Homo sapiens: one gene and its partner. The protein of the gene in region 1 purifies or fractionates together with the protein of each later gene. This does not show direct contact. Each region holds a gene or a part of one and is shown in the gene's direction. Other genes may lie near its edges.

Region 1 (4,424 bases):
AAATTTATTTTATCTAGTCAGTTATCACAGTGGTATGAGAAGATGTGCTCGATATTCTTTTTCAGGGACAGTTGCCGTTTGCTGTTGTGGGAAGTATGGATGAGGTAAAAGTCGGAAACAAGATGGTCAAAGCTCGCCAGTACCCTTGGGGTGTTGTACAAGGTAAATGAGACAAAGGATGACTAGAAATATGTATCTATCTAGTAATCTCAAAGCTACCTGTCATGCCTTCTTTGGGGTGATGCTTAGTTTGGATGTGATTGGTTGTCAGAGGAATTGGCTGTGTACTATTTTAGCCAAAGTCTGGAGGCCGTGTAGAGCCTCCCACTTCTCATTATGCCACACACACATTACCCCCGCCCCCACGGTACCCTGTTAGTAGGTGGGAAACACCAGTGGGGCACTCTGACCAAAATGTGAATGTGGAAAGTAGTGTTCAGACATAAAACATCACTAATTACCACTTAAGTATAAGAACAGTCAACCATCTTATAAATTTATATATTTTTACTGATCAAAGTATTGCCGGCTATTTCCAGAATAAGCCAGTCAGCCAACTTAAAAAGTTAAATCTACTTGACATTTAGATTATTTAGCTGACATTATAATGAGTAAGTAAATAGTATTATATGGTTCATTTACTTATAGTGCTAATTAATGGTGAATAGATTACCCTTACTAGTATGGATTTCCAAATGCTGATTTTTTTTCTTAATTGATAAATTTTGTAATGAATGAAAAAATTGAGAAAATATAACATTTTTAATTTTATAAAAAATGTAAAAGTAATAATTATACTTAAGAGTATTGGTCACAATAAAATATATTTATTTGTAGTCCTCTGGTCACCGTAAACATAGAAGAAGGATCATGTAAGTGTGTTCACTAATTTTGAATAGTGTCTAACACAGGATCATAAATGTGTTCTATAAAAAGAATTTGATAATTATAGCAGGGAAGGATAGTATTCTTGAGTTTGCAGAATTTACTACTTTGAAGTTTTAGTGAACTAATATTACATACTCTTTAAACATTATGTGAAATGTCTTCAGGATAGTTTGTAAACTGCTAACAAAATATTAGTGTGAAATAACTAGAACACTTGGTTAACAATAAGTTGTGTCTTTTTTGGTATTTCCTGGTGATTCATTGGCTACTAAATTTAAAGTAAATCTGGTCTGTTAATTCACATTGCCTATGATACAGTATTTATACTGCAAGAGTTTCTTCCTTGGTTACATGTATAAAATAATCGTAGCTGTTAATCAAACTGATCATTTGCTATTTGTTGTTTCACATGTTTTCATTTATTTGTTCATTCAGCAAACACTTAGTTGTGTGCCAGGAATTAAAATCCAGTGTTGTTCTTTTCTTATTTTTTTTTGGCTAGTGGAAAATGAAAACCACTGTGACTTTGTAAAGCTGCGGGAAATGCTCATTTGTACAAATATGGAGGACCTGCGAGAGCAGACCCATACCAGGCACTATGAGCTTTACAGGCGCTGCAAACTGGAGGAAATGGGCTTTACAGATGTGGGCCCAGAAAACAAGCCAGTCAGGTAGGGTGGGGTTCTTGGGAAGCCAACCAAAGAGGAAGTTAGAGAGGATTGCATATTTTTATATATCCAGGATGATGGGGCATGTGTTCTTTAGAATCTCCCAAAACCATGATATAGAATCATTTGGTAATGACTAATTATTGTGCTTCTTGAATCACTTGACTCCTTCTTGCTTTTGAAGAGTCTTGCTTTTTAAGTCCTTGTCTGACTCAAAAAGAGTTAAATATGATGAAGAATGTATGGCAGAGGCCCCCTGTTTCAGTTCATGCTGACATGAGTAACTGAAGGAAAATACCCTCATTATTTGATTTCTTTTTGTATTTATCTGAGACGATGATATATTTAACTGTTGTCATAAAGGTAAGTTGGAACACAAATCATTTTCTTAGTTTTATTTATTTATTTTTTGTAGAGACAGGGTCTTACTATGTTGCCCAGGCTGGTCTCAAACTCCTGGCCTCAAGTGATCCTCCTACCTCAGCCTCGCAAAGCTTTGGGATTACAAATGTGAGCCTCCATACCAGTCCTCAGGAATCATTTAAAATAAACTAAAACATTTTCTGTTGGTTTTTCTTCTGTAAAGGTTTTGGAATGAGTGAAGCTTAGCAAAACATATTATAAAGGAAGAAGGAGAGTGCTTGTAGGGAGTTGGAGATTAGATTGTTTCTTGCCATATTACAGTGTAGTTATAAGAATTTTAGAATCTGAACCCTTCCTTGCTCAGTAATATAAAGCATTAAAAGTTGTAGAAACTTCCTTGGTAATTTTATATGGTGCTGTATCCCAGACTTTATGCAACTCAAATCCTTAGTGTACTGAATCAGATCAATTTGATGTAGCATTCCAGAACAGTGTTTGCATGCAGGAAAGCGTGAGATCCTTGGGACAAGTGCTATTTTAAACTCTCTTATGAGACTGAGGATTCCTTTTCCATTGCATTGTTTGCATTTGTTATTTCTCTGGTTCTTAGCACCTGCACCAGAGTAAACAAAAGAAAGGGGGAGGAGTGCATCAAATTAGTGCCGCTGTTGCATATAAGCTTTTGGAAGACTTAATCTTAGATGAAGTTAAATTTTTAAATTTCTTCAGTCTATGGAGTTAATTAATGTTTTCACTTCTGGTAGCATAATGAATTAAGAATTGTATATACTTATGGCCGGGTGTGGTGGTTCATGGCCTGTAATCCCAGCACTTTGGGAGGCCAAGGCGGGCAGACCACTTGAGGTTAGGAGTTCAAGACCAGCCTGGCCAACATGGTGAAACCCCGTCTTTACTAAAATTACACAAATTAGCTGGGTATGGTGGCACACTTCTGTAAAACCAGCTACTCAGGAGGCTGAGGTAGGAGAATCACTTGAACCTGGGAGGCAGAGTTTACAGTGAGCTGAGATCGTGCCACTGCACTCCAACCTGGGCAACAGAGCGAGACTCCATCTCAAAGAAAAAAAAAAAAAGCATTGTGTGTACTTAACCCACCCTCACCAAATTCAGGCATAGGATGCTTCTGGTTGTGGGCCAGTCATTCTCGTAAACTGACAATTTTCTCATGATATTGTCTTCACTAAAGATTAATCATCTCGAGTTAGCTTCCCTAGTGTTTCTCAGAGGAGACTCACTTCTCATTTCTTCCAAGTCTCAGGGTCACTTCAGAGGCCTCTGTGCACTGAGGTGGAAGGGGTCCTGAGTAAGAGCGGGCAGGGACAACTTTGAAGTCCTCTCTGAGGAGACAGGCCTAGGTGTCTGGTGGAGTCATCATCAGTCACCTGTGGATGATTAAGAAATGCAGGGTCAGAATTTCCAGGGATGAAGCCTAGAAATCTGCAGTCAGAATTCTTAGTCATTCAGCAAATAGTTTGTCTGCTATCTGCTCAGCCAAATGCTAGTCATTGGGTGTATGTGCACTGTTGGATCAAATAGAGACCCTGCTTGTGTAGAGTCTCTGTTGAGGGGTGGGAGGAGGACCCCTATGTGAAGAAGAGAGTTGGGGGAGGGGGGCAGGTGGAAGTGGGGAGACCAAGTTAGGAGGTTGCCATGGTGGTCCAGGCATGAGAAGATGGAGGCGTGAAAGAGAGGGGTAGTGACAGAGGGGTGAGAAGCATGCTTAAGACATGTATTTTTTTAAATTTAATTTTATTATTATTATTATTATTTTTGAGATAGAGTCTCACTGTGTTGCCCAGGCTGGAGTTCAGTGGCATGATCTCTGCTCACTGCAACCTCTGCCTCCTGGGTTCAAGCGATTCTCATGCCTCAGCCTCCTGAGTAGCTGGGACTATAGGCATGCACCACCACCCCCAGCTAATTTTTGTGTTTTTGTAGTAGAGACAGGGTTTCACCATGTTGGCCAGGCTGGTCTTGAATTCCTGGCCTTGGGGTCAGGAATTCCTGGCCTTGAATTCCTGGGGTCTTGAAACCCCATCTCTACTAAAAATACAAAGTGATCTGCCTGCCTTGGGCTCCTGAAGTGATGGGATTACAGTGATGGATCACACCTGGCTAAGGATATGTAATTTGAAATTAAAGTCCATAGGACCCACTGATAAATTATTTTTGCATATGGGATTTGAAGGAAAGAGAGGGATCAAGGATAACTCAGTCACCACTTTGACCTAGAAAATGGGGTGACTGGTGGTGATCGTTATTGACCTGAGGAGGATGGGAATCAGAGAGTTTAGGGGTGTAGTTGGTAATCCAGAGGTTTTAGAAATGTTACATTTAAGCTGCTTATTAAATATTCAGGTGAAGAGTTTGAGTAGGTTATTAGACACATGATGAATCTGGAGCTAGGGAGAAGTTAGGGCTGCCATAGTAATTTGGGAGTCAGCAGTGAATAATACTGGGTAAAATCTTAAGTATTTTTTTAAA
Region 2 (4,446 bases), on another chromosome or scaffold:
CAGGATGGCCACCCCACCCCGCCTTCTGATGACTGATGGACACTAATGGTTTCCATGAGCGACTTGCCAAACAAATAAGAGACACATCAGTAGGTAGAGCCCCGGGGCCACACTTTGCCTCAGTGACCACTTTTTGGGGAACAAGGACTGAAACTTCTGGGCTGACGAAGCAGCTCTCCAGCCTTGCTCTCCACTCGGACAGTCATGCGGGGATTCCATGGCCACCTCAGCGCTTCCGGGAATGGTCATGGAAGCTTCTGGAAGTCAGGAGGCAGCCACTGTGACTTCCCCTTGCCCACGTGGCACGCTTGGAATGTGGTGAGTGCCACTGAGTATGGAGAGAGTCAGGCAAGCTCATCTGTGGGCCCTGTGCCAAGGGCCCCCAGCAGGGGCCTGTCAGGTCGCAGCCCAGAATGCCGGGCCCTGTTCTTACCAGAGAAGAAGGCCATGGTGTGGGCCCAAGGGCCATGACAAACAGAGGGGCCGCAGGGAGCGAGAAGCCCTCCCCCAGTTACAAAACCACGTCCTGGGGGGCCACTTCTGCTTTTGGTTCCTCATTTGACTAAGAAGAGTTTCGTTAGCAGAAAACCTTTTCAAGGCGTCTTTGGAAGTCACATTGGATAACTCCTGATGCCTGCGCCAAGTGGAATCTTCCTTTGGGGCATTTTCTAGAAGGATCCCTCCTTCCTTCTCTGCAAAAGGGAACCGTCCCCCCGAAAGGGCCTGGGCCTTTGGGAAAAGGGGTTTAGAAAGCCAGGCGCGGGGACCCTTCTTTGGGGGCGGTGGCCGCATCCCAGGATCCCTTCCTAGGGGAGGCCTGGGCCCAGATGTGAGGCTGGGGGCCTCTCCCCAGGGCTCAGGGCCCCAGGAATGCAGGGCCAAGGGGGCCCATGAGCCTGCGGCCCCCCACCCCGAAGCCAGGAACCCCGGCAAATGAGTCCAGCCGGACAGTCCCGCGCTCAGGGCGGCGGCCGGCGGCGGGGTCAGGCTGGGGTCTGCCCGGCGACCTCGCGCCTGGCCCGCGAGTTCAGGTGCCCCGGAGCCAGGGAGGGAGCGGGGCGCGGAGCCGGGCGGGGAGGGCAGGGGTCACCGGGCGGGGCAGGAGCAGCGATGGGACAGCCCCGCCCCGGGGGAGTGTCCCGGCCTGGCCGCCGCAGCCTTAAGGGCCGGGCGGGGCAGGGGCCCAAAGTGCGGGGTCGGCCGGGTGCTGGGCCGAGGCCGAGGCCGGGGCGGGATCCAGAGCGGGAGCCGGCGCGGGATCTGGGACTCGGAGCGGGATCCGGAGCGGGACCCAGGAGCCGGCGCGGGGCCATGGCGAGGCGCGGGCCAGGGTGGCGGCCGCTTCTGCTGCTCGTGCTGCTGGCGGGCGCGGCGCAGGGCGGCCTCTACTTCCGCCGGGGACAGACCTGCTACCGGCCTCTGCGGGGGGACGGGCTGGCTCCGCTGGGGCGCAGGTGGGCACCGGCGGGGAGGCAGCCCTGGGGGGACGGGAGGCCCATCGCCCGGGCCAGGCGCGCGCTCTGCCTCCTGGGGGCCCTGCGTCGCCAACAGGCCTTGGAAGGTCAGATCCAGCCGCTTCGTTTTGGGGGTCGCTCCTTCTCTTCCACATCCAGGGTGAGCCCTGATGTTTGTGGGGTTGGACAAGCCCCACCTGGCCAGAAAGCCAGGCCAGCCCCACCTCCTCGGCCTCTGGGGGTGGCCCTTACGGCGCGGCATGGCTGGGGGAGCAACCCGGTTCCCTCCTTTCGGGGGTGCCCTGCCTCCTTCACATTCTGAGAGCGCTGGAGCCTCCTAGTGTGAGGTGGGCCCACACCTGGCTCACCTCTGGTGATTGTGGCCCCACTCCCATGCCCTCAGGTGTTGGGAAAGGCGGGAGGGCCCTACCGAGGGCTTCCTGGGCCCACGGCCCCCGGGAGCCCCAGCACCGATCTGGGTGGGGATGATCTCTTCTCAGCACATACCCCCGGCCTCATGAGTACCTGTCCCCAGCGGATCTGCCCAAGAGCTGGGACTGGCGCAATGTGGATGGTGTCAACTATGCCAGCATCACCCGGAACCAGCACATCCCCCAATACTGCGGCTCCTGCTGGGCCCACGCCAGCACCAGCGCTATGGCGGGTGAGTGGCCGCCCTTTGACTGTGGGCCAGGAAAGCCCATCCCGGCTGCCTGTTTATAGGCCCAGGCAGCTCAGCCCGCGGTTCCAGGGGCCTGTGATTCAAGGCCAGGTCAGCCTGGGCTGGGGTGCTAAGGCCGAGGAGCGCGGGCCTTTGCCCTCTGCTGAGGTGACCCAAGCTGGGTCATTCTGGGGCTTTTGGGTGACAGGCAGGACTAGGACTGAATCCCAGTGACAAGTGGCTGCCAGGTGCCCTCTCTCCCCCAAAGCTTGTGACCTCAGCCATTGGGATAGAAACAGAAATGCAAAATCACTGAGTCCCCAGGCTGTATTTGAGGATACAGAAGTAAACTGCTTCTCAGCACAGATGAAAGCCTGTCCTGGGCTTGGAATATTGGGTGAGGCTAGTTGGCTACAGCCCATGGCCTAACCTGGTCACTACCTCCAGCCTGGTGGGTTTCTATCTTAGGCTTTTGGCAGGAGTAGGGTAGGGAGGCTCTTAGCAAAGAGGAAGGGGAAACTAAGGCCCTCCCTATCAACGAGGCTGCTGCACCCTGCTTTGGGAGAGAAGGCGGGAGAAGGGACAGCTGCAAACCAGCCCCAGGCCCACCCCACAGCATTTGGAAGGGACTCTGCTATCCCCTCTCCAGTCACAGCACAGGGTCCAGGAGCCTGGATTTCCCCTGGAGATGGGACTTGCGTGGCCTGGGAGTTTGGCCCATGAGCACTGTGGTGCTGTTGCCTCTTCCCTGGCCTTGGTCCTCATGGGTCAGGCCTGCTGTACACCCATGTGAAAAGGATAGACTACAGTGTGGCTGCCGCTGTGGGCCAAGGCTGGGGGACATGCGTTTGCGTGTGCTCCATCTCACTGACGCCTCCTCAATGCCATGATTGCTTCCAGTTTGCAGATGAGGAAGCAGGCTTTTTGCAGAGAGATGGGGAGGCTTGAGCATAGTGTGAGTGACAGCTGAGATTTGAGCCCGGAAGCCTGGGCTTTGTGCCAGGATGTCTGATGGGCTCAGTCTTGTGAATGAGGGGTTCTTGCTCTGGGGGTAGGGTCTGGACCCCAGAGCCAGCCAGCTGAAGCTGTGGCATCCGTGGCGTCTCCCCCGGGGGCTGGAACACACTTCTGATCGTTCAAAGGTCCCTTTGATGTGGATGGAGCTGGAAGGTCTGGGAGACCTTGGGCGGGCTGCAGGGTGTGGGTGGGGCTAGAGGCAGAGGACTGGGCAGAGTCTAGGGGAAGTGTCCAGGCCTGGCACCCGCTGAGGAAGTGAAAGAGCCTTTGAGGGTGGGGTGAGGGTGAGGGGAGAATAGAAAGGTCAACAGGTGCCTGTGGGAAGCCTTGAACTCTTTGAGAGGGAGTCAGGTGACAAGATGTGCGTCTGTGAAGGACTGCGGGTAGAAAGGAGATGGCTTTCAGATGGATGTGGGACCCTGGCCAGGGGTCAGCCCTGCCGCATTTCCCCAGGGGACTCTCTCTGGGCGGATGACTGCTTCACCCCACTTTCTCCTGAAACCTCCTTCTCAGCGCACCCAGGCCCAGGCACTCGCTTCCTCTTTCACTGAGGAATAGAAGCCACCAGAAGGGGACTTCCACGGGGCCCTGGCCATTTGCCAGCCAAGGCAGCAGGTCCTCCATTTGTCTTCCCTCCTCTCCCCCAGGATCAACTGTCTTGTCCCCTCACTGAGCCCGTCCCTTCCCACTCAGGGAAGCTCTCCCACCTGGAAAAAAGGAACACAAAGCCCCCGGCCCCACCCCGCCCCAATTCTGGGCTCCCTAGGGAAGTATCTGGAGTCCCTCCACTTCCTCTTCTCTACCCTTGAACCCACTCCAGCCTCAGTCCCACCTCTGCCACTCCACCGGCACTGTTCTTTCCACTGCCACCTGGGGCCCACCGTGAAGCATTCTCCTGATCACGTCTCCCCAGGATGCTTCCTTCTCCTGCACCATACTGCCCGCCTCCACCTCCCTGGCCACTCCTTCCCCTCTCCCCAGCTGTCTGCTCCTCAGAGTTCTGAGTGTCAGCTTCCCCAGGACCAACCCTTCACCTGAACTCAGCTTGACATCCACCTGCCCACTCGCCCGCTGTCCCGGTCACCTGACACCTCCAGCCTCAGACCTTCAGGTCTGGATGGCTCCTTCCACTACTGTCACCTGACAGCCCATTTCTTCCCCAGTCCTCCCTGGCTGTCCTTCCGGCTATGCAGGCAAAAGCCTGGACTGGTACCCGACTCCTCTGTTTTCTGTCCCTCATATAATCCACCCACAAGTCTTGTCGGTTCTACCTTCGAAGCAGATGCAGAAATCACGCACCGCCCACCGCCTCCT

What was found.
Region 2: the proteins of SEPTIN10 (region 1) and CTSZ fractionate together in Homo sapiens (co-fractionation; one large-scale study listed by BioGRID). This does not show direct contact.

The regions. Positions count from the first base shown.
Region 1 is NC_000002.12:109,561,501-109,565,924, reverse strand, and holds part of SEPTIN10 (septin-10), read left to right. Parts: intron 1-65; coding exon 66-162; intron 163-1,390; coding exon 1,391-1,559; intron 1,560-4,424. UniProt on the Homo sapiens protein: Filament-forming cytoskeletal GTPase. May play a role in cytokinesis.
Region 2 is NC_000020.11:59,003,994-59,008,439, reverse strand, and holds the start of CTSZ (cathepsin Z preproprotein), read left to right. Parts: upstream 1-1,185; 5' UTR 1,186-1,311; coding exon 1,312-1,454; intron 1,455-1,954; coding exon 1,955-2,118; intron 2,119-4,446. UniProt on the Homo sapiens protein: Exhibits carboxy-monopeptidase as well as carboxy-dipeptidase activity. Capable of producing kinin potentiating peptides.